Homo sapiens: one gene and its partners. The protein of the gene in region 3 purifies or fractionates together with the protein of the main gene of each other region. This does not show direct contact. Each region holds a gene or a part of one and is shown on either strand. Other genes may lie near its edges. The genes, in order: ABL2, RPAP1, BAG2, LUZP1, TTC1, STIP1 and PRRC2C.

Evidence for each region.
Region 1: the proteins of BAG2 (region 3) and ABL2 purify together in Homo sapiens (co-immunoprecipitation; 2 studies listed by BioGRID and IntAct, with this or other methods). This does not show direct contact.
Region 2: the proteins of BAG2 (region 3) and RPAP1 purify together in Homo sapiens (affinity purification with mass spectrometry; 2 studies listed by BioGRID and IntAct, with this or other methods). This does not show direct contact.
Region 4: the proteins of BAG2 (region 3) and LUZP1 purify together in Homo sapiens (affinity purification with mass spectrometry; 3 studies listed by BioGRID and IntAct, with this or other methods). This does not show direct contact.
Region 5: the proteins of BAG2 (region 3) and TTC1 purify together in Homo sapiens (affinity purification with mass spectrometry; 2 studies listed by BioGRID and IntAct, with this or other methods). This does not show direct contact.
Region 6: the proteins of BAG2 (region 3) and STIP1 purify together in Homo sapiens (affinity purification with mass spectrometry; 3 studies listed by BioGRID and IntAct, with this or other methods). This does not show direct contact.
Region 7: the proteins of BAG2 (region 3) and PRRC2C purify together in Homo sapiens (affinity purification with mass spectrometry; 2 studies listed by BioGRID and IntAct, with this or other methods). This does not show direct contact.

Annotation. Positions count from the first base shown.
Region 1 is NC_000001.11:179,100,678-179,104,177, forward strand, and holds part of ABL2 (tyrosine-protein kinase ABL2), read right to left. Parts: 3' UTR 1-3,500. UniProt on the Homo sapiens protein: Non-receptor tyrosine-protein kinase that plays an ABL1-overlapping role in key processes linked to cell growth and survival such as cytoskeleton remodeling in response to extracellular stimuli, cell motility and adhesion and receptor endocytosis.
Region 2 is NC_000015.10:41,520,258-41,523,757, forward strand, and holds part of RPAP1 (RNA polymerase II-associated protein 1), read right to left. Parts: intron 3,098-3,500; coding exon 2,988-3,097; intron 2,704-2,987; coding exon 2,508-2,703; intron 1,994-2,507; coding exon 1,841-1,993; intron 1,624-1,840; coding exon 1,481-1,623; intron 891-1,480; coding exon 134-890; intron 1-133. UniProt on the Homo sapiens protein: Forms an interface between the RNA polymerase II enzyme and chaperone/scaffolding protein, suggesting that it is required to connect RNA polymerase II to regulators of protein complex formation.
Region 3 is NC_000006.12:57,175,326-57,178,825, reverse strand, and holds part of BAG2 (BAG family molecular chaperone regulator 2), read right to left. Parts: intron 1-3,500. UniProt on the Homo sapiens protein: Co-chaperone for HSP70 and HSC70 chaperone proteins. Acts as a nucleotide-exchange factor (NEF) promoting the release of ADP from the HSP70 and HSC70 proteins thereby triggering client/substrate protein release.
Region 4 is NC_000001.11:23,092,357-23,095,856, forward strand, and holds part of LUZP1 (leucine zipper protein 1), read right to left. Parts: intron 2,025-3,500; 5' UTR 1,906-2,024; coding exon 1-1,905.
Region 5 is NC_000005.10:160,033,139-160,036,638, reverse strand, and holds part of TTC1 (tetratricopeptide repeat protein 1), read right to left. Parts: intron 1,500-3,500; coding exon 1,439-1,499; intron 1-1,438.
Region 6 is NC_000011.10:64,196,171-64,199,670, reverse strand, and holds part of STIP1 (stress-induced-phosphoprotein 1), read right to left. Parts: intron 2,401-3,500; coding exon 2,274-2,400; intron 2,179-2,273; coding exon 2,076-2,178; intron 1,818-2,075; coding exon 1,697-1,817; intron 1-1,696. UniProt on the Homo sapiens protein: Acts as a co-chaperone for HSP90AA1. Mediates the association of the molecular chaperones HSPA8/HSC70 and HSP90.
Region 7 is NC_000001.11:171,537,530-171,541,029, reverse strand, and holds part of PRRC2C (protein PRRC2C), read right to left. Parts: intron 1,060-3,500; coding exon 1-1,059. UniProt on the Homo sapiens protein: Required for efficient formation of stress granules.

The DNA of each region.
Region 1 (3,500 bases), on a different chromosome or scaffold from region 3:
GGAGTGACAGGTAGGACCCTGAAAATTTGCTGATGCGAGTACAGTGATGAACAAAGAACCTTCCAGAATAGACACAGATGACATGTATCACAATTCTGCTCCAAATATGGTGTGGTCTGAGGACAGTGCTGTGCCTGGCCTTTCCCCTTCAACACGCCAGCTGCTCCCTCAGAGTGAACAGGGCTTTGCTACTCTGCTCAGGTCAAAAGGTAAGATTTTTGTAGGAGAGGTAAACAATTTCAAAGTTAGAGATGTACATGGGGATGAAGAAGTAAGTGCACTTGGAGGGAAGGGTCCGGCGAGACCTCGCCAGGTGGGCTTGAGAAACGCAGCAACTGCCAAGTGAACACTCTCAGGAAACCACTTCAAGTGGCGGATTCTCACAGATGGAGGATCTGGCCACTGCCATCTGAGAAGCTCGTGTCTACCAGCTCTAGTTCAATAATCATGCAAAATCAACCCAGCTGACAAGTCTTTTCCTCTCTGAGACTCATGAAACCCATCTTTGAAGGCACAAATCTCCAAGGGTGGCCTCTCAGCAGTTTCTGCCATTCCAAGTCAGCTTTGAATCATGACCTGCCACAGGCCTCCTTACCTGGGAAGAAGTATGGGATCTTCTTATCTTGATCCCACAGGGTGAAGCCTTCCCTAATTTCCTGTCCTTTGGATCTAGGATATTGAGTCAGAAATGAAGGTATCCTTTTTTTTTTTTTTCTTCTTAACGTGTCTCACTCTGTCACTTAGGCTGGAGTGCAGCGGCGCGATCTCAGCTCACTGCAACCTCCGCCTCCTGGGTTCAAGCAATTCTGCCTCAGCCTCGGGAGTAGCTGGGATTACAGGCATGTACTACGCCCGGCTAATTTTTATATTTTTAGTAGAGACGGGGTTTCACCATGTTGGCCAGGCTGGTCTCAAACTCCTGACCTCAAGTGATCCGCCCATCTTGGTCTCCCAAAGTGCTGGGATTACAGGCACGAGCCACTGTGCCCAGCCAAAAGGTATCATCTTGTACATACTCAAGATAGAATACATACCTCAGAGAGGTGGCATGAAAAGCAGAAATTCATCCGTCTGCACATTGCAATAAACTTCCCAAGAGACAGGCTGGACTGAGTCATGGGGGTGAGTGCTCCAGAGTAGGCTGTAGCTTGTCCCACAGCCCTGAATCCCACCCATGCTTCTCAGTAAGAGAGGAGCGTAGGGAATGACAGTGAAGTTCAAGTGAACTACAGTTGTGCTGAACAGAGCAAGTAACAATAACTATTACTACTGGCTTGCTGGAAAAAAGAAAAAAAAAGCAAGCTTTGCATTAGAATTTCTTTTTTTTTTTTTTTTTTTTTTTTTTTTTTTTTTTGAGACGGAGTCTCACTGTCACCCAGGCTGGAGTGCAGTGGCGCGATCTGGGCTCACTGCAAGCTCCGCCTCCTGGGTTCACGCCATTCTCCTGCCTCAGCCTCCCCAGTAGCTGGGACTACAGGCGCCCGCCACCACGCCCAGCTAAGTTTTTGTATTTTTAGTAGAGGTGGGGTTTCACCGTGTTAGCCAGGATGGTCTCAATCTCCTGACCTCGTGATCCACCCGCCTCAGCCCCCCAAAGTGCTGGGATTACAGGCGTGAGCCACCGCACCCGGCCAGAATTTCTTTAAGTCTAGTAGTTGGAAAACCAGAACTCTATCCAAATGATATAGATATCTTGACTGTTAAGAGTTGGAGACGTTTCAGAAGTTCTCACATACTCCTACGGATCCCAGACTGAAGCAGGAATTTACAAAGGAAGTGAGCTACTACTGGCTTGATACAAGCTAAGACAGAGACACAAACCGCTGAAGCCTATCAATACTTAAGCCAGAGACCCACCTACAAAAAGAGGATTGGTCATAGCAGATCCTTAGGGCACAGAGATGAACCCCAAATCCAGGTGGAACAATTTAATGCAAGATGATGAAACTCAAAAATCAAGAACAAAAATATAGATAACCCTGTCAACCCAATATGAACTCCTGGTAGGGGCACAGCCTGATAACAAGAATGACATCAGTAGCAAAATGGAAGGGAGCAGAAGGGGTCATAATGAAATGTAGCTATAATTCAGAAGTGGCCACCAAGGCAATTTACTTTTGAGTATTTTATAATAGGTGAATTAAATTCAGCTATTCTTTTTAGAAAAAGAAAAAAAAGATGACAAATGTCAATGTCATTTATAACTGGTAGGAAATCCTAGAAAAGTAATTCCCAAAGTGCACTGGTTTTATGGCCATCCACCTCCCCCTGTAAACCTAACAAAACTATGCAGGACATAGGTTAAAAAAGACACTGTCAACATCAACAGATAACAAGTCTGTTCCCACCACATTTAGGATAAATGGCCAAGCATATAGTGGATAAATGGAGAAGAGTAAGAGGACCTCATCCTTCTTGAGTCAAGGTCCTTGGAAGAGCTTCTGTGTTCTGGAGTGAGTACACATTCTTACTTTTTAAAGATCGGAATTAAACCAAAAAGTTGGTCCCTAGTTTCCTGAAGTAATTCAGCTCTGAACTACAACTTTAGCAAACACTTGCTATACCTGCTCATACCTGTTAAGCAGTTTCATATTTCTAAATGTGATAAATGACAGAGGTGATTCTTACGTATCTACATTTTCAGGTACCCCACAGGGTCCATCCACATTGAATCAACTGTCTTATCTTTTAAACAGACAATACTACAACCTTATAGTTATATTACAGTTGATATTTTCTCAAAGTGCTGTCATATACATTATCTCATAGTCATTAAAATAATGTGAACAATAAAGTTTTTTTAAAGAAAAGGGAATGTAGGACTAACTAGGTTTTTTAAAAACTCAAGTTGGTATTTCTTTACTACAAAGTGCACATTGCTGTGTTGCTGAGGTCTGTCCAAAAGAATGACCCCATTGAATTTTTTAAATGACTGAATTCTACTGAGTGCTTGCTTGGCTTGTGTTCCCATTACTCCACATTCAAGCCCCTTAAGGTCAAAGTGTCAGGAGCATGTGCTTTAGAAAGTGTGCAGCACCACACAGGCTGATTGTCGGTCTGAGCCACTTTTTTGCAGTGTCTCACATGGCAGCAGGTATGGTGGAAAGACCCCACAACCATAAAGTCAAGAGACTTGAATTCTAGCCTTGGCTCCGCCACTAATTAACCGTTCTGAGACAATAGGCAAGTAATTTAACCATCTTCTGCTAGTTTCTTAATCTATAAACCAAAGGGTTGGGGTACTGATAGTTTTCAGATAGCACTGGGTGTTTCAAACACCTGGCGAGATTACTGGAGAATACACTGGCCGAGACCCCAGCCCACTGGGAATTCTGATCTGGAGTGGGGCTATTCCGTCAGTTTTTTTTGTTTGTTTTGTTTTGTTTTTTAACCCTAGGGGATTCTGCTGTGCATCCCTAGACTAGGTGTTAATAATAGTAGTAGTAGAACATTTATAGAGTGTGCTCATTGTGTGCCAGGCACTTGAGCTAAGTATCTTA
Region 2 (3,500 bases), on a different chromosome or scaffold from region 3:
CTCTTAATCCCCTCAAAGCCCCCAAGAGGTAAGATGAGGAAGCTGAGGTCTTCCAAAGCTCCTCAAGGCTCAGGACTGCCCCCGAGGCCCAGTGCAGGGTACCCTTGCAGGTCCTGCTGGGCTGAGAAAGTACCTGGGTCAGAGGCAGGCTCAGAGCTCGCAAGGCTCCCACGTGTTCCCCAAAGAGGGCAAGGCGCAAGGTGACACTGAACCGACGCTGCAGGGGCAGGAGGACCAGGGCCCCAAAGAGGTGGTCCCCAAAAGAGACAGCCTCAAAATGATCCAGGAAGTTGGCATAGAGGTCAGGGAAAGACGTCAGGCCAGGGAGTCGGCAGTCCAGGTTGAGGTTTGGCAAGACTTGAGGCTGACAGAGCTGGGCGAGGAGGGCTGCCACCAGATGCTGTACTGGGGACTCCCGGAACAGCTCACTGTCCACCAGGAACACACACATGAGCCGTGCCAGGCGGGCAGCAGGGGGCACAGCCCAGAGAGCCTGGGGGCGCCAGCTCTCCAAAACTAGCACCCACTGCAGGACCCGCATGGCTGTGCCCATGGTGTCTGTGGGAGAGAGTCCCGAGGGGGTGTCTGAAGCCCGGTGGTAGAGGCGAATCAGTGGCAGGAAGGGCCAGTCGGTGGGCAGCAGCGGCTCCGTAGGCATGGGCAGTAGCAGGGTTGGGACTCGCTGTAGCTCCCCTCGGTGCAGAGCCTGGGAGGCCAGCAGACTGGCTCGGGCTGGCGAGCAATGAGTCAGGTAGCAGTTGCGGATGCTGGGGAGGTCCTGGCAGGCCTGAGCCAGCAGAGTCCCTTGCCCACACCGAGGGACCCTGCTGCTTCCTAACGACAGCTGGTCAGAGAAGTCGGCTGCCTCTGGACCCCCTGATGTTCTTTCCCTGTAATGGGACCCAAAAGCCAAAAATGAGGGCTGGAACCACAGCACTTGGAGGCTGTGCCAGCTCTTTGGAACTTCCTGGAGGCTCCTAGGTCCAGACCTGTGCCTCTCTGCTCCCTTAACTACTTCCCGCGCAGTGCTGTGTAGCAGTTAAGAGGATGCACACTACAGCCAGCTGCCTAGGCATGAGTTTACATAACTTCTCTGGGCCTCAGTTTCCTCAGAGTAAAATAAGGATAATAATAGTATCTATCTCATGGTCCAAGTAAAATACTTAAAATGTAGATAAATACATAAGGGAGTATCAAACACAGAGTAAACACTCAGTAGCGGATGGCTATTACATGTGTGTAACTGATTTAGATACCATTTTTTTAGCCATGCAGTCACACTGAAGTCTCACAATCATTCTTGGGTGTGGTTAGCCTGATCCTCACTTCACTAATGAGGTAATGGAAGCTCGGAAGAGTTAAGTGTCGTCGGTGGAAGAAAGAGAATTTAGGTCTCCTGGCTCCAAATTCAGGGCTGCTCTGTTAACAACTGCAGCAGCGTCCAAAAGGGCTGAGTTGATGCCACCAACCAAGCACTTACGGGAGGAACTCCAGCCGGAATACACAGCTCAGCAGCAGCTCATGGGTGAGGTACTCACTTCCGGGCAGCAGCCGGCTCAGCAGGGCCAAGGCCATACCATGATAGAGGGCAGCATGGGTGGCTGGCAGTGGCTGCAGCGCTGCCTGCAGACAGAAAAGCAGGGAACTACCTAGTACAGGAGAAGGGGACGTGGCAGAGAGAAGTGAGGAAGAGGATAAAAGTGAGGCTGAAGGGCAGAGGTCCAGGGCATGTCTGGAGGAAAGTGGGAGCTGCATGGCCTGGCAGAAGCAGGCTGGGTTCCACAGAAACAGGAAGGAGATAATGGGATGACAGGAGAACCTGTCAGACAGGGGGACCTACCGCTTTCTGGGCCAGAGCGAGTGCCAGGTACTGCAGGTGGTACTCATGGCGCAGGGCCCATGCAGAGAAAGGTGTGAGGTGTGGGGCAGCCCCAGGAGCCACACACTGGAGGAAGTAATTCTGGAGTCCCGGGGCAGCCAATATGGCAGCCAGCTGAGGAAAAGCAATTTTGTTCAGATCTAGAAATTGACTCTCATGCCTTCTAGGGCTCCCCAGGTGGCTGCCCCTCTCCAGACTCAGGGAAATGAGTGCCAGCAGAAGGCCTCCCTTCCCCATGGGACACCCTCCCACTTTCTTTTTGGTTTTTTTTGAGATGGAGTTTCGCTCTTGTTGCCCAGGCTGCAGTGCAATGGTGTGATCTCAGCTCACCGCAGCCTCCGCCTCCCGGGTTCAAGTGATTCTCCTGCCTCAGCCTCCCGAGTAGCTGGGATTACAGGCATGTGCCATCATGCCTGGCTAATTTTGTATTTTTAGTAGAGATGGGGTTTCTCCATGTTGGCCAGGCTGGTCTCGAACTCCCGACCTCAGGTGATCTGCCCACCTCGGCCTCCCAAACTGCTGGGATTACAGGCGTGAGCCACCGCGCCCATCCCACCCTCCCACTTTCTTTCTGATTCCTGCCATCTTGGCCCCTTGCCTGGCCCCTAATCAGGCACCCCACACTTACCTGGCCACACAGCCCCTTGTGGATCTGGGCCAGGGTATTAAGAAGAGAGAGGAGGGCAGTGAGGAATGGGAAGGGTGAGGCTGAGCCAGCCAGACTGAGACGGGGGCAGCCTCCCGAGCAGCCCAGTGACACGAGGCTGGGGGGAGCTTCAAGGGCTGGCACACAGGACAGCGGGTTGCAGAGAAGGGAGCAGTGCCTGTAGGTGAAGTGGAGAGTCTGAGGGGGACTCTGGCCTGGCGTGTGCCAAGCTGGAAAGAGCTTCTGGGTCTGTACCTAAGACTAACGGGGGGCCTGGCTGTGGAGGTCAGTGCTGCTCACACTCCTCAGAGCCCACCCCACTGCTGCCTGCTAGGGACTCGGGTTTCCCTCGGGCCGAGGGCCTGCACCCTGGGATGGACCTGGGAGCTGGACCCAGGAATCCCACAAGGAAAGAAATTGCCTCCTCCCCTGCTTCCCCCAGCTACCAAACACAGTACATACCTAAGGGAATCCCACAGGCTGCCCAGTGTGGGCTGACTCAGCAGTGGCAGCAGCAGCTCCTCTGACAGGCGCTGCATGTCCTGGAGCCAATCCTCCGGGCATGAGCTTGGCTGGTGGACCAAGGAATTCACTGAGCTGATGGCCCAGCCATTCATTCTCCTAGACCCTGTGTACCCAGGCCAATGCCACCATCCCAACAGCCCAAAAGAGCACATTTGGAGGCTTCTGCAGGCTGAGCCTTCTGAAGGGAGAGAAGGCCCCGATGTGTAGGGGGCATAAAGAGGGAGCACACAGGCTACAGGAAGGCTGAGCTGCTGCGTGGGCTCTCTGGTCCCCACCAACATGGCTCCTGGGAAGCTCCACGGGGATATGGAGGTAGAAAGAGGAGGAAGGGTAGGAATTAAAAGGGAAGATAGTAAATGGGGAAGTAGGAGTGGAGAGATGGACACAGAGAGGGAGCAACGGGTGGAATGTAGCTGAAGGCAGGGTGCGGGGGCCTGGTGGACAGCCGGC
Region 3 (3,500 bases):
AACTGCTAAAGTTTGTGTTTTAGGGACCCTCCCCCACCCCCATCCCACAAGGCTTTTTTTAATACATAATAGAAATTACCAGGGCATTATCCCTGTGAAAACCAGATTTCATCATTTATAGAACTTCTTATATACATTTTTATGTATACCTTTTTCATTTCATGCAAGGGTAAAATGTCATTCTTCAAAATGTAAAGATCTCAGGGTTTATTTGGCAACATGGGCTTTTCATGTCCTATTCCCTCTTCAGGTAGCATTCTTTCTCCCTGACCCTTGTCTACTGGGATCACCTTTTTCAAAACCCAATTGCTTCAGCAGGAATTGTTTCCTTAGCTTCCCCCTTCCTCTCCCTTAAGGCAATTCATGCTCCTTTTGGCCCTGGTACATCCATTTACTCTACAGTCTAAAATATGTCTACCTCATATTTTACATTTTTTCTTTTAAAAAGCTGAACCTAGATCTCTACTTAGTTTAAGTAACGTTTGTACTGTTTGTCAGCTATTGCTATCCTTAAACTCATATACACGTCTTTTGTCTACAATTTTTCCATTAGTTCTAGAAAATTCTTGGCTGTTGTATCTTTGAATATTCCCTGTCTCCCCTTCTGTTATTTTCGTCTGGAACTCTGGTTAGAGAAATGTTGGACCATCTCACTTTATCCTTCATGTTTCTTAATATCTCATCTGGCAACACTTCTGGCGGAGAAGGGCAGTTCTGTTTTTACTAACAGATCCCGGAAGCAGCTACACGTCCAAATTGGGAAAGAACTTTTCCTCACATCAAGGCTGGCCTGGGCTGTGCTCCTGGAAAACTCCCTGCATGAAATCACAACTAAGTAGGCTTTGACAAAAAGAAATTTTAGTCAGAGTACTCAGTAGGAAGACAAAACCGGAGCGCATGCATCCTCAGCTAGTACCCAGGTCTTGGGCACCTCACAAACCTCTGCAGTCTCAGTATCGAAACGGCAAACTGCTGGGAGACTTAGGAGGAGTACAACAGCAATTTTGCGCAAACTGTGGCTACTATTAATATGTCAGCTAATAGAGTATGCAGTGAAAACTGCGCCAGCACTGCCACTACTAGCTGTGCAAATGGGTCAGTCGCCTATGAAACAGGGATGATAAGGGAACAGTGCTTGTGACTAAATGAAGTAAAGCAGGTAGAGTTTAACAGTGACTGATAGCACTGACTAAAAAAATTACACACACACACAAGTTAATATGTATAATGTGTCTAGAATTGGCACTGGCATATATTTATAGTATTAATAGCTATTATATTCTTACCATTATGAATGTGGGCTTATTTATTAATGATGAAAATTTGTGCTTTCATAAAAAGGAGGGAAAATGGCAAATGCTCATACCATGATTTGAAAGAAATAATTTCTAAAACAGGTTTGTTTTTTTTGAGATGGAGTCTCACTCTGTCGTCCAGGCCGGAGTGCAGTGGTGTGATCTCAGCTCACTGCAACCTCCACCTCCAGGGTTCAAGTGATTCTCCTGCCTCAGCCTCCCGAGTGGCTAGGACTACAGACATGCGCCACCACGTCTGGCTAACTTTTGAATTTTTTATTAGAGATGGTTTTCACCATGTTGGACAGGCTGGTCTCAAACTCCTGACCTCAGGTGATCTGCCCACCTCAGCCTCCCAAAGTGCTGGGATTACAGGAGTGAGCCACCACGCCTGGCCTAAAACAGGTTCTTAAAACTCATAGTTCTGTCTCTTATTCCATACTCCTATATCAAAAGAATGCTATAATGATCACTTTTAGGCAATGTAAAATTCTGAAGTGTTTTCCTAATCACCAAAATGTTAAATTACATTTACTGTCAAGACATTTTGGTGTAAAAGAAGGGACTAGTGTTTTTAGTGTGAAGAGCCACTTTTCAGTAGCATGTCCTCAGGCAAGCCACTTCATCCTAATTGGACCTCACTTCCCTCATTTCTAGGAGAGAGAGTATGTGCCCTCCACCTAACTCGAAGGGTTCTTAAAGTTTCAAATAACATATATGAAGTGTTCTTTTAAATTACAGGCTGTCACACAGTATTAACTATGATGCCATCTTGTTTTGTGACTCCTAGAACACTGGCACACCCTAACATGAAACTTTAAGCCAGACGAATGATCCCTATCACCCCCAACCCCATCCCTTCACTACCTGGGTGCAGGTTAAGCCACAGTGAAAGGCTGACAGGAAGGCAGAAGGAGCCACTGTGTTATAAGTTTTGGGAAACATATGAAAAGCCAATCTCCCAGTCCTATCATTTTCCCCTCTGCCAGTCTCCAAAACCCATCCCCCAAACATCTTCATTACCATCTTGAGCTTTCTAGGAGCTACCCAATACCTAACACATAGTGGGTGTTCAATATCCACTGAATTAAAGGCCAATTTAGATTGAATTTTTATCTCTTAGAGGAAGCTCATCTATTCATCCATATATCATTTCTATATTTTGAAATGTGATATATTTAAGAAAATTCAGGCATAAAGTATTAGAGCCTGGAGAGCCAGTCTTCCTGGGTTCAAATTTGGAGTTTACTACTCTCTAGTTGTGTGACTTTGGACAAGTCATTTAAGCTTCTAAGCCTCAATTTCCCTATCTGTAGAATGGTGATAATAGTAACAACGACATGGGGCCTGGCACATAGTCCGTGTACATTAAATGAATAAACATTAGCCTGTGTTTTAGAAAAAACTCTCACACTGTGTTTTTCCTCTGCTCTCACACTGTAACAACACAGAAGGCTGTGACCAAATATGTGGGGGATTTGCAGCTAAGTATCCCCCAACTCAGTTCCAACACTCCCTACACCTGGAGACGGTATCAGATCCCACAAGTTGAAAGCTCAGTCCCCAAGACCCCACCCTCCACCGTTGCAAGTCTAGGCCTCCAGAACTTCTGACCAACTGGCTTCAAATTGGGGTTCCCATGTCCCCCTCTTTGGGTTTAACTTGCTGCAGCAGCTCACAAAATTCAGGGAAACACTTACTTATATTTACGGATTTATTATAAAGGGTATTACAAAGGACATGGATAAAGAGATGTGTAGGGTGAGGTACAGGGGGAAGGGGCACACCACCTTCCAGGAGCCTCCACATGTCCAGCTATCCAGAAGCTCTCCAAACCCTGTCCTTTTTGGGTTCTTATGGAGGCTTGCTTCTTTTATATAAGCATGAATGACAACCATGTAGAAAAGTGATTGGACAAAAAGAGTATGCCCTCACTCTAACAGACTGAATGGGGAAACCCAGCAAGGCCAGTCTATTCAGATTCTTCTTGGCCTCTGGGTGCTAAATGCCCTCCTCCAGGGCATAGGGCAGGACCCTCTCTGGAACGAGAGTCTTTTGACCCACAATCAGACTAGAGGTAAGGCAGGTGAAAGAAGGTCAGAGAGAGAGATTCTTTTTCCTGAGGCCTAAAGCACCCCAACATTATAACGTAAGACTGTAATAAGGGTTATGGGAGTTATGAGCCAGGAACTATAACATAAGACT
Region 4 (3,500 bases), on a different chromosome or scaffold from region 3:
CATCACAACTGCTGCAGGTTGATTAACCCCTTCTTTATGTGAGGTTGAAAATCCCTGAAGGATGTTCTCTTGGCTTCTACAGCTATAAGGATACTTCGATAGAACAGGAGCCTTGGAATTCGGGCAACTGTTATCAGCCTCAAGGCCATTGGCAGCCTTTTTGCCTTTAGAGAGCCCTTCTGAGGAGGATCTTCGAGATGAGGCCAGGGCTCCAATGGCCTTAGAACAGCCAGAGTTTGCAGCCTGAGTTACTTGACTTCCGTTGCCAAGCACGTGTCCCCTCTTGCCAAAGACAGTCTCAGAGGAGGTGTCAGAAGCCTTGTCAGCTCTACCCAATGGGTCACTGGGAACAGATCCATGGGTGGTGTCACTAAACGTTCGTGTTGTCTTCTCCACTTTTCCCTTCAGTCCGCTCTCGGTGCCTGGCTTGGAAGTCCCCTTCCACGCTTTACTGTGCTCCTGAGCAGCCGGGGGGTAGCGACTCAGCACTGAGGGCTGCTCCCTAGACTTCTTCCCTTCGCTCTGGGAGGAGCCGGGTACAAACCGGTCTTCAGTTTTCTTTGTCTCCTGAGTCCCACTGTCTGTACTCACCCCCATGTGAGAAGCTTTTGCTGCCCTCCTGTTGGTGAAACTGGGAGAAGAAACCTGCCTGTTGCTCAGAGAATAGTTTTCATTGTTGAGAGCAAACTCCCTGTTCCGGAGTCGTTCCCGCTTATGCTGAGGAGACAGTTCCCGCGCTGTGTGCTTGGACACAGAAGCTTCACTTCCGTGGCCTCTAAACTTAGTCCTCTCATGTCTGCCTTTGCTGGACAGGAAAGCATCTTCCCCTTCTACCTCTCCATTTTCTAACTCTTTCTGTTTCTTGATTTGTAGCTTTATCTCCTCCAGTTGGCTGGCTAATAATTTGTTTTTATTTTGTTCACTTAGGTAATTATCCTGAAGGTCGTTATTTTTGGACTTCATTTTCTTAAGCTCTTCTTCCAACGATTCAAAGTGTTTGATTTGTGTCTTAAGTTTCTCAATCTCTTGGTTAAGGTCTTTGACTTTGTTGTCTTCCTGATTGCGGTTCTTTTCATTTTCTGATTTGTTTCTTGTTTCATTCTCTACCTGCTTTAGGTAGTCCAGACCACCCTTCCTTCTTGATTCTTTGGACGGCAGTGTGGAAGAGATGCCATCCTCAATCCGTAGGTCATTTCTTTCCAGATTAGAAGCATTCCTTGTATAATCTCGGTTCATTTTTTTGTTCTGCTCTAGTTTTTGAGTGAGTTCTTTTATCAATTTCTCATTTTCTTTCTCCTTTTCATTCAAGTATTTTCTCTCACTTACAAAGCTCAGAGTTAATGATTTCAGCTTTTCTAACTCTGACGCTAAACTCTGCTCAGTTTTATCCAGGCGGTCCTCAGAAGATTCTAGTTCTTTCACTTTGACTCTGAGCATTTCCAGCTCAGAGGAGATTTTCTTGGTCAGATTTCTCTCCTCATTCAGGCTCAGACACAGCTGGGTACAGTCATTCTTACTCCTGCTGAAGGCCTCTTCTAGCTTCTCTAATTCAGCCATTCGTTTCTGAAGCCGCTCAATCTCAGATTTCAGCTCCCGGGTGAGGTTTTCTTCCTCTTCAAGTTTCTCCTTCATCAGACGACACAGATCCTCTGCTCTCTTAATTTCCTCGTCTTTGCCTTCAATTCTCAGCACCCGCTGGCGCAGCACTTCAATCTCCGCCAACATGCTGGAGTTGCTACCTTCTGCCTGAATCACCTTGTCCTGGAGATCCAGGAGTTCATCCTCTGCTTTCTGGAGGTTTTTTGTGGCTTCCTCCAACTCATCAAGGCGGCGGCTTAGACTCTGTAGCTTAAACCGCAAGTGGCGGCTGGAGGCCGTCTCCTTGTAGCTTGTAAATTCGGCCATGTCTACTGCCAGCCAATGTGGGCTCCTAGAGGCATCCAATTCCACTCAAGGGGATGAGAAATGGTTACCTTTCTCTTGGCAACCACAATCTTCTTTGACAGCTGGAGACCATCATCAATCTACAAAAGGAAAGTAGAAAGCATGTCAGTCAGCAAATGTAAAACCTGCACGTTAGCTCCCAGTTATAGAAAAGTGCTCCTATCTGTTCCTGGTGCCTGGATCATAGCAGGGGCTCAAACCTGTTGAATGAATGACTTGAATAAACCTGCAAGAAAACACTGGTTCTTTATGGCCGATATTGAGTTGATACCTCATTTCGCCCTAATAAAGAATGTCACCAGTGGCAGCATGGCAAAAAGACATATAAGAAGCCTCAATTTTCATGGCAGGGTATAATAACATCATTACCATCTGCAACCTGCATAATCTCAGGAGAGTCATTAACAATGGAAACTAAGTCTCAGTTTTACTTAGTGGTAAAATGGGCATAATGATGTCTACCGTATTTCTCCCCAGTGTTGTTCTGAGATAATATGTGGAAGATCTTGGTAACAAAGCAATAAACAATCCTAAGATTTTTTTTTTTAAAGATTATCTCTTATGAGCTATTGTGACTTAAAAGTGATACAAATTAACCCTCTGCCTTGCTATAAATGGTGAGCTTCACAATATACTAAAACAATCTCTCTACACCCATTTTCAACATCTCTTCTCCCAAAAGTATATTTGTAAGTGGAATTCAGGTGTGAGTTGGCCCGACCCAGCCAACAGGCAGCTTCTACAAAACATATCCTTTTGCACTGTAAAAGAAATGCCCCAGATGTTAAGGTTGGTATGAAGACTGGTTTGTTTCTTTGAAAGCCATTTCACTGGGGATATATACCAAACATATAATAATACCCCAAGGAAATAGAGAAAGGGGAAGGTTTAGTTTTTTTATGTAATTTTCTCATTTTTAAAACAGGAGAATGGATTGATAAATGTATTTTAAACAGCTTTCATGAACAATAAGTCCTACGAAATTAAAAGGCAAACAACAGACTTCCATTTCCACCACTACAGCAAACCAGATAACCTGGAAAACCTCTAATACTATAAAACAGCTAAAAATACTGAATAAAATGTAACAATCACTTAAAATGTATAGTTGATCACATAGAAAGTAAGTGACATTCCAGCTAAAACCAGAGGAAAAGAAAACTAAATGAAAAATAATAGTAAGTTTAAACTACCACTGAGCTGTCCTTCTTAGGGTCTTGCCGATCTCCAGAACCAAGGAGTTTGGGTTCTAACAATCATGCAGGTATAAGAGGCAAGAGTTTGGGCTCAATAGAGGTGGTAAGTTGAAAATGAGACTCCAGTCCCCAATCTAAAGCAAGGATTATTGAAGAACTACAGCTCCAGGATAACTAGTGAAAAAAGTCACCTCCCTGATATAGGGAGATAAGAGGACCCGGGCTCTATTAGGGGTTAAAGGAGGATTATCCCTAGAGAATTTATAATCTTAGACCTGCTCTCACTTGAATTCAGAGTTCAAATTTATACCATCTGAGTGGTCTAGAACCTATCTGTCCTGAGAAACTAACATAAAATGG
Region 5 (3,500 bases), on a different chromosome or scaffold from region 3:
CTATATTCCACAGGATCTCAGAAGCACTGTTTTCCATTCATAGGATGAAGGTTTTGAGTTAAAAGATGGTAACAGTCTATTAAGTCTGGCGCAGTAAAAATCATTTCTTCTTTTCTTCTCTCTTTAAAGGAACAGTGCTTGCTTGTGCCAATCTCACAGGCTGTGCTTGGTGAACTGACAGCTGAACATGCTGTCAGTGACAAGCCCTCAATACTCAGGAGTCCTGGCATTCCCTCAATGTTCAGTTTTCATTTGGCTGGGCAATTCAGAAAGGAGTTTTCAAAGGAGGTTACAGAACTGGACAGAGGAAAGAGACTAAACTCTGGGATCCATGGCCTGAGATAAAGAAAAAAATTATACATATTTGTTTTCATTAAATCTGTTGTGCTTTCATACAGTCAACCTGGCTAAAACAGCATCCGTGAAATGTTTGAAGAGAGACATTTGATAGAGCTAAAAGGAACAATGTAAAAATCAATATTTAAATCAAGACCTTAAAAGAGAAAATGGTGAAAAAGAGAATTATGGTCAGGATACTAATAGAAAATTGCCTATGTACTCCTTTCTCAGGTTTGAAATATTTAATATTAACATACAAAAAATATGCTTCCAAAATTAGAAGTGTTTATTCTATTAGAAAACAGTATTAATGATTACTAAACCAAGATATAGGAAAAAAAAAAAAACCCTAAAATCTGAAATCAGGTAATAGGGTAACTTTTGGAAAACAATAAGAAAAAAATTAAAAACCTGAAAATAACTAGCGGAAAATGTTAACACTCCTAGATTTCTGAAGCATATACACTTTAAGATGTGACAGAAGACTTTTGCTCTAAGATCAAATAGTTACCCCAAATTATCAGAATGAACCCCACCAACTTATTTCTAAGCAAATGTAGAAAATGCAGAAGGACATGAAGAATCTCCCTACTTAAGGCATCCAAAGAAAATGGCACATGAAAGAGCAACCTTTCTGAAGCAGTTTGGAGAATTTAAAAAAAGAAAGAAAGAAAGAAAGAGCAACCAAAGGACAGGCAGCCCTAGGCCATACCAGAGCAGTCAGGCTGCTTTCACAGCCCCACAGCAAGTGAGGAGCGGCGACTCTGCTTTCACAGCAATGCAGCACATAACCTTTAATATTCCAGGTTAGTGTTTTCCAAAGCAAGAGCTCAAGAGTTTTACCCCTGATTCTAGACTAACAGATAGTGGATTACAGAAAGACTATGCATGTGCCAAGAGACAAATGGTAACTGGTCACCATCAGATGAATAATTTGGCCTGGTTAAAAACTCAAAATGCCAAGGTACTGGGAAGCAACACTGTATTGTGAAGTCTGGTTTTGGGGTTTCTTCAGATGTTCTTTGGGGTTTCTTCACAGACTCTACAACAGGATGAGGAGTCAAGATGACCAGATTATCAGTGCTGAAAGTCGTCTTACCTCCTTTCTTAAACTGTTCATTTCCCTCCTCCTTTAGTCTAGTGCTCTCTTCTCTTCTTTTCTGAAAGACATCAGAGAATTACATAATTTCTCACAATATTATTATAAGTGAACAAAAAGGTGAGCTTTCCTTATGCACAAGTCTATTTAATAGGCAACAGTCTGACTTTTGAGAACTGCATCAGTTTCACCAAAACCTTGTACAGTGATAGAGGAAAAAAAACACATGACCATCAGGCTAATTATCAATTGCATTCTTGATGTTTAAAACAAAAAATGTAGGTCTTCTTGGCATGTCCTTTGCTTTCTATGTTTCTATCTTTTGCAATGGAATGATAATTACAGTATCACTTAATTTCTACTTACTCAGAAATGAAACTAAATAACATACCCACTGGTGTGCATACCAGTGTAAATTCAAATTGTAGCTTCTAGTACTTACTAGTTATGTGGCCTCGGACAAGTTTCAGAATCTTTCTGAGCCTTAGTTTCTTCATTTCAAAAATGAAGCTTTAATAGTATTATGGACTACTGTTTAATGGATTAATGTCATAATATACATAAAGCTGCCCATACAGTGACTAGCAAATAAGGGCTCAATAAATAAGCTATTATTTTCTGTGAAATAAGTACTTTAATCCTTATAAGAACCCTTCATGGTTTGTGTCATGAAGGAGACACAGTATGCTAGGAGAGCACATTTGTGGGTACAAGCCAAGTCTGTAGGGTTAGGGCAGTATACTGTTAGCAGGTTAACATAGGAAAATGTGAAGAAACCTAAATAAATAAGTCTGTCTTTTCTTAGCTTATTCAAACAACTCAGAAACTCACATAGATGGCCAAAAACTCATCAAACACAAAGGCTGAGAGAATGTTATCCTGCAAAGCAAAGTAGACGCATGCTGAGTGTGTGCACTTTTTTGTGGAACATCTTAACAATATAACTGGCACAAGCCAAACCAGAAGAGTCTGTATGCCTGCCACCTTTTGACAGTGCTTTAAAACAAAAACAACAAAAAAACCCCAAAAACAGAAAATCTACCAAAGTCCCTTAAAAAAAAAAAAAAAAAAAAAGAGATAGGGTCTCACTATGTTGTCCAGGCTAGAGTGCAGTGTCTATTCACAGATGTGATCAACACACACTATAACCTTGAACTCTTGGACTCAAGTGATCCTTCTGCCTCAGCCTCCTGAGTAGATGGGACTATAGGTGCACACCACTGTGCTGGGCTCTTTCCTCCTTCTTGAAGCTTCTGATTAAGTAATTTCAAAGGGAGGAAATACAGTTAGCATTCTGATTAAGTAATTTCAAAGGGAGGAAATACAGTTAGCAGGGTATTTCATGCACAAGAGAAGCCTGGAACCTAAACAATTGGTCCTTTTAACATGAGGAACTGATATGATCTGTGTTCCTACCCAAATATCCCCACGGGTCAAGGGACGGACCCTGGATCATGGGGACGGTTCCCCCATGTTGTTCTCATGATAGTGAGTTCACTTTCATGAGAACTGATGGTTTTCAAGTGCCACACTTTAAAACCATCAGCTTTCTCTTCACTTTCCGCCATGATTGTTAAGTTTCCTGAGGCCTCTATAGCCATGTGGAACTGTGAGTCAATTCAACCTCTTTTGTTTATAAATCACCCACTCTCAGGCAATTCTTAATAGCAGTGTGAAAATGGATTAATACAGGAACCAAAATAAAAACATTCTTTCTCTGGAAAAGATTTGTCAATATGCTATTGATGAGACCGGGTATTTCCCAAATGTCTTATTATTACACTATGGATTAAACAGAGCACTTGATGAATCTCAGTGAGGAAACTAAAAGGTAAGTATAGAGTGAATCTAATTTTTATGGTACATACTATGTGCCAGACACACAGCAGGTACAAATAACAATTCATTTTAAGATATAACGTATCTGAGGGAAGGGCTATTCTAAAGGAATTCAGAAAAAAATAAAATATAAGAATATGGCCATATTTACCTAGTACTACCCATAAGAAAGATGCTTAGATTGTAATGATCTCTACTGTATTGATTAGGGTTACTGGATGCA
Region 6 (3,500 bases), on a different chromosome or scaffold from region 3:
AATGGCGTGAACCCGGGAGGCGGAAGCTTGCAGTGAGCCGAGATCGCGCCACTGCACTCCAGCCTGGGTGACAGAGCGAGACTCCATCTCAAAAAAAAAAAAAATCAGATTAGGATTTTAATTTTCAGAGTATTGCTGGCAAGATTTTTTTCTTTTTTTTTTTTGAGATAGAGTCTCGCTCTGTCGCCCAGGCTGGAGTGCAGTGGCGCGATCTCGGCTCACTGCAAGCTCTGCCTCCCGGGTTCAACGCCATTCTCCTGCCTCAGCCTCCCGAGTAGCTGGGACTGCAGGCGCCCACCACCATACCAGGCTAATTTTTTTTATTTATTTAGTAGAGACAGAGTTTCACCGTGTTAGCCAGGATGGTCTCGATCTCCTGACCTCTTGATCCGCCCACCTCGGCCTCCCAAAGTGCTGGGATCGCAGGCGTGAGCCACTGCGACTGGCTATTGCTGGCAAGATTTTTTTTTTTGAGATGGAGTCTCACTCTCACCCAGGCTGGAGTGCAGTGGCATGATCTCGGCTCACTGCAACCTCCGCCCCACTGAGTTCAAGCGATTCTCCTGCCTCATCCTCCTGAGTAATTGGGATTACAGGCGCCTGCCACTGCGCCCAGCTAATTTTTTCGTATTTTTAGTAGAGACGGGGTTTCACCATCCTGGCCAGGCTGGTCTTGAACTCCTGACCTTGTGATCCACCCACCTCAGCCTCCCAAAGTGCTGGGATTACAGGCGTGAGCCACTGCACCCGGCTATTGCTGGCAAGATTTTAAAAGAAATTTACAGTCTTTATAAAATAGTCAAAATGTTATGTTACAAGAACTATTAACATTCTCAATGCACAGGCCCTCAATATTAACACATTTAGGGTTGAAATCTTGGCCAATACCAAAAACTGCAAAAAAAAAAAAAAAAAAACCACAAAAAAAAACACCAGATCACTTCCTACATGTTGTCACTGTTAAATGACAGAGAAAGAATCATGTAAGATGACCAAAGCCACTACCTAAAAAAAGATCAGGTTCAGCCAGGCATAGTGGCTTACGCCTATAATTCCAGCACTTTGGGAGGCTGAGGAGGGCGGATCACTTGAGTTCAGGAGTTCAAGACCAACCTGGGCAACACAGTGAGACCCCTTCTCTACAAATAAAAAAATTAGCTGGACGTGGCCAGGCGCAGTGGCCTGTAATCCCAGGACTTTGGGAGGTTGAGGTGGGTGGATCATGAGGTCAGGAGTTTGAGACCAGCCTGGTCCATATAATGAAACCCCATCTCTACTAAAAATACAAAAATTAGCCGGGCATAGTGGCGTGCACCTGTAGTCTTAGCAATTCGGGAGGCTGAGGCAGGAGAATTGCTTGAACCTGGGAGGCGGAGGTTGCAGTGAGCAGACACCATGCCACTGCACTCCAGCCTGGGTGACAAACAGACTCCATCTCAAAAAAAAAATTAGCTGGACGTGGTGGCACGTGCCTGTAATCCTAGCTACTCAGGCTGAGGTGGGAAGATCACTGAAGCCCAGGAGGTTGAGGCTGCAGTGAGCCACGATTGTGCCACTGTCTTTCAGCCTGGGTGAAAGAGTGAGACCCTATCTCAAAAAAAAAAAAAAGTCAAGTTCATTATTAAATAAAACAGTAAGAAACAATGGCTCAATTATTAGGAAAACAAGAAAATACCCCTATTCTTTTCCTACGCACCTGCTGGCATTTCTTGAGCACATCTGGGGTTCGGTGCTCTGCCAGAGACTTGTTATAGAAATGGATGGCATCCTTGTACTTTTCTTCTTTGAAGTAGGAGTTGCCAATTCGAGCATATGCTCTGATAAAGAAAGAGGGACAAGGACTGCTTAGGACAGAGAGATAAAGTCAGCTCCTGCAGAAAAACACACCTGCAGCTAGAAAGGCCCGCATCACTGCCTTCAACACCTTTTGTCTTGTCTCTGGTGACCTTCTTGCCAGCCCTTTCTTAACACAGCAGATTCTATGGCCAGCAGCCCTCCTCCCCATGCAGAGAAACTTAAGTCTTGGACAGCAAACCCTCCGCGCTACTCAAGGTATTCTGGAAGGTTGAGCCTACTTGGCAATCTGTCGATAGTCTTCTCGGTTTTCTCTCCCCACTTCAATGGCCTTCTCACAAAGCTCCCGGCACTTATTGTAGTCGCCCTTTTCAAAGTATACCGCTGCCAGGCAGGATGGTTAAGAAGGAACAGTCAGTCTTTGCTTCCTCCCTCAGAGACACCCAACAATTCCCTTGCCCCTTGTTTCTGGGCCTCACCTGCTTGATTGGTAATGTAAGTCATGTTAGTGGGGTCCAGCTCCTTGGCTTTGTCGTAATGCTTCAAGGCTGTGTCAAAGTCTTTCTTCTTGTAGGCATCGTTCCCCAGCTCTTTTTCTTTCAGTGCCTAGATGAGGTTTAGAAGTGAGTGCTGAGCAAATCTAACTCAGGTGACAAAGCAAGAATCTATGATCTGTCACAAGTTCTGAAATGCAACTAACATGAATAGAATTCTATCAAGTTCTCCTGAAGGCCTCTTCATCAGTCAGCTATAGACAATAAAGTATCAGCCGTTAGAATGAAAACTAACTTCATCTTTGCTTGCTCTGAAACTCCCCCTTTTCCACCTACTCTCCTAGATCTTTGTCAGGAAGCAGAGCGCTTCTTTAGGGGAGAGGAAATCCCTTCGACTTGAAGCAACCGGTGAGGACAGCAGAGTTTTGGACCAGGCTTTATTCTGAGGCTGCAGCAGATCTGGTGTCAGTCTTGTGGTTGCCTCAGGGTCTTAGTTGTCAGGGAACCATAGCAGAGGGGGTGGTGAGAGGATGAGAAGCGGCTGAGTGGCACGAGTCTTCAGCAAAGCTCACTACCGCCCACACTGGAGGGCCTTTTTCCAGCTGAGACACCCTAAACAACCAACGCTTACCCATTTCAAGGTGCTAAATTTGGCAACAATCTGCTGTTCCAGTTTACAAGGAGGGAAATGAAATCGTTGAGGCACATGCCTTCTGCTCTAAAAGAGTGCTGCTTAGCGGACACTCCCAACCACACACCATGTCCAGCCAGGAAGCAAAGGCCTAGGGATTGATGTGGACAACATTCTTCGGATCACGACAAGGACGTGAATTACTCTCAACTTTCCAGTCTTGCTAGGACCAACATTCACACTGGCAGCAATGAAGCCGCTGTGGTGACCACGGGAAGGGCAACTCCCGCAGCTCACTCTTTGCTACACATTACTCCTAGGAATGCTCTTGTGAAGCTTTTTTTTTTTTTTTTTTTGAGATGGAGTCTCGCTCTGTCACCCAGCCTGGAGTGTAGTGATGAGCTCTCAGCTTATTGCAACCTCTGCCTCCCGAGTTCAAGCGATTCTTCTGCCTCAGCCTCCCGAGTAGCTGGGACTACAGGCGCCCACCATGACACCTGGCTAATTTTTGTGTTTTTAGTGAAGATGAGGTTTCACCATGTTGGCCAGACTGGTCTTGAACTCCTGACCTCAGGTGATCT
Region 7 (3,500 bases), on a different chromosome or scaffold from region 3:
CTGTATCCTTGATCTGGAAACCAATCTCTCTCTCTAGCTTCTTTCCAATAGGTCCTGGGAGGCAAAGTTGATTCTTTTTTAACTGCTGGTCTTGAATCTGGTCGAGGCCTCTCTATAACAAGGTCTTTGCTGATGACTTTCTCAGGTTGTTTTTCTTCTTTGACTACTGGTGCTGCCATAGTCTGTTGGTTTACAGTCTTAACTGCAGGCTCTACCTGAACAGTACTCACAGGTTCCAGAGGCTTCTCAGTATCCTGAGATGGTTTTTGAGCCAAAGTTGCAGTTTCTGTTGAAGGAAATTTCTCTGCTTCTGGTTGAATTGGTGGTGGAACTGACTGTGGCTGAATTGGTGCTGGTGGCTGAGGTGGTGGTGGGGGAGGAGGAAGATCCTTCTTTTCCGTCTTTTCAGGCTTTACAACTACTTTTTCAGTGACCTTTTCGGCCTTTTCTCCTTCTTTCTCCTTCCTCTGTTCCCGTTCCTCTTTCATATCTCTAAGTACAGGTTTTTTAATGGGACCTGATCTTCTCACAGGTCTATCATTAACTTCTTCCCTTCTGTTAGAGCTTGGTCGTGGGCCCCAACGAGTTTCTGATTTAGATTTATATACTTTTTCAGGTTTTGGTCCTTCAGAAGATCGTATAAAGCCTTCCTTTTTTGGTTTCTCCTCTGGCCTTTCTATTGGTTCTTTTGAATCAATGCATCTGCTGGTTACTTTAGGAATGCCTGCAGATGGTTCACTTCTCTGCTCGTCTGGTTTTTGCGTATGGTTAGATCCATGGGAAACACTTCTTTTCCGGGAAGGCTGACTTTCTACAGCTGAAATCCGCTCCTCTTGAGGAGCGGATAAGGTCTTTTGATCAGGTGCTTCAAAACAAGCAGACTGATTATTTGCATCAGTATGGTGAGGTCTAACATCTTCCACAGATCTGCTTAAAAACTTTTGTACTTGTGCCTCACTTGATTCTCTGATAAAGTCTGCCTTTGGGTGAGCCTCTAATTGATTATGTTCTACAGAATAAGCAGCAGTAATCTGTTCCTGGTCCAACGCAGCTTCAGACCTATGATGATAAGAATTCAAAGGTATAATCAACAAAGCAATCTTTCCCATGCGTAAGTATATAGCAAAATAATCCCTCTAAAACAGAAAGCAATGACTCTTAACCATAATGAGAATCTTTCTCTCGCTATATAAAAAGTTTAGAGGAGAATTACTCACAATAGCCAAGAGGTGGAAACAGCCTAAATATCCAATAGCTGAATGGATAAAGAAAATGTGGTATACACATACAATAGAATATTATTCAGGGATAAAAAAGAAGGAAATAGTGTCATATGCTACAACATGGATAAACCCTGAGGACATTATGCTTAAGTGAAGTCAGTCAGTCAGGACAAATATCTTACATGAGGAACATGAAATAATCAACTTCATCAAAGCAGAAACCATAATGGTGGCTGCCAGGGGCTAGGAGTAGGGGGAAATAGGAAATATAGGTATAGGTATAATATAGGAAATATAGGTAAAGGTAAATATAGGAAATATAGGTAAAGGTAAGAATAGGAAATAGGTATAAAGTTTCAGTCATGCAAGATAAAAAAAAGTTCTGGAGATTTGCTGTATAACACTGCTTACAGTTAACTACATGGTACCATATGATTAAATTTTTGTTAAGAGGATATATCTAATGTTCTAAGTGGTTTCTGCCACAATTAAAAATAAATAGGGCCGGGTGCGGTGGCTCACGCCTGTAATCCCAATCCTCACTTTGGGAGGCCGAGGAGGGCGGATCACCTGAGGTCGGGAGTTCGAGACCAGCCTGACCAACATGGAGAAACCCCGTCTCTACTAAAAATACAGAATCAGCTGGGCGTGGTGGCACATGCCTGTAATCCCAGCTACTAGGGAGGCTGAGGCAGGAGAATCGCTTGAACCCGGGAGGCGGAGGTTGCGGTGAGCTGAGATGGCACCATTGCACTCCAGCCTGGGCAACAAGAGCAAAACTCCATTAAAAAAAAAAAAATGGGCCTGAAGCGGTGGCTCATGCCTGTAATCCTTGCACTCTGGGAGGCAGGAGGATCACTAGGGCCCCAGGAGTTTGAGACCAGCCAGGGCAACATGAAAAAACCCTGTCTGTACAAAAAATACAAAAATTAGCCGGGTATGGTACTGCATGCCTGTAGTCCAACTACTCAGGAGGCTGAGGTGAGAGGATCACTTGAGCCTGGGAGGTCAAGGCTGCAGTGAGCTGTGATTGCATCACTGCACTCCAGCCTGGCTGACAGAGCGAGACCCTTCTCAAAAAATAAAAATAAAAAATAGAAATAAATAAATGAAGTTTATTCCTTAAGGAAAAACAAAGTTAAGACCATGCTGATGTGAATTTCTAATCCATCAAGACCAGTAATTTCCACCTAGAATGAAAGAGTACACTTGAGTAAGCTTATCTGTCCCAGTTAATTACAAATAATTATAAAACATTATAAAACATTACCAAAAAAATATAGCCCATAAAAGGGCAGGAAGTTCCAACTGTATGGCTATAAATTATTACAGTCATCACCAATTGTGCGCCATTTCAAAGTTAACTTTGTATTATTGTATTTCTCCTTATCTTGGCCTTAAAAATGTTCCCTAAAATACTGTTAAAAAGAAACATCTCACTAATGGAAAAATTACATCTAGCTATATTATATAAGCATTGTAGATACACCTAAATTTCTTCACACCTACTCTACAATAAAGACATCCCAAGTGGCTGCACACGATGGCTCACGTCTATAATCCCAGCACTTTGGGAGGTAAGGCAGTCAGACTGCTTGAGCCCAAGAGTTCAAGACCAGCCTGGGCAACACGGCAAAACCCCATCTCTATAAAAAATACAAAGATTATCACAAGGTCAGGAGATCGAGACCATCCTGGCTAACACGGTGAAACCCCGTCTCTACTAAAAATACAAAAATTTAGCTGGGCGTGGTGGCGGGTGCCTGTAGTCCCAGCTACTCAGGAGGCTGAGGCAGAAGAATGGTGTGAACCCGGGAGGCAGAGCTTGCAGTGAGCTGAGATCGCGCCACTGCACTCCAGCCTGGGAGACAGAGCAAGACTCTGTCTCAAAAACAAAAACAAAAACAAAAACAAAACAAAAAACCCCACAAAGATTAGCGGGGTGTGGTGGTGAACGCATGTAGTCTCAGCCACTCAGGAAGCTGAGGTAAGCCGATCACTTGAGCCTGGGAGGTGAACGCTGCAGTGAGCCAAGATCATACCAACGCACTCCAGCCTGAATAACAGAGCAAGTTCCTATCTCAAAAAAGAACCTACCAATTTCAACATCTAATACTAAATTACAGCATACAATTGAGTACAGAACCAGGTTACAAAATGCCCTAATGAATACAGAGAATATGTCCAAAGAGTAAGCGTAGCATGCTAAATTAAATAGAAGGAAACCAGATTTATGCTTCAGTCCTAAATTGGAATGATCTTCAGAAACACTACACA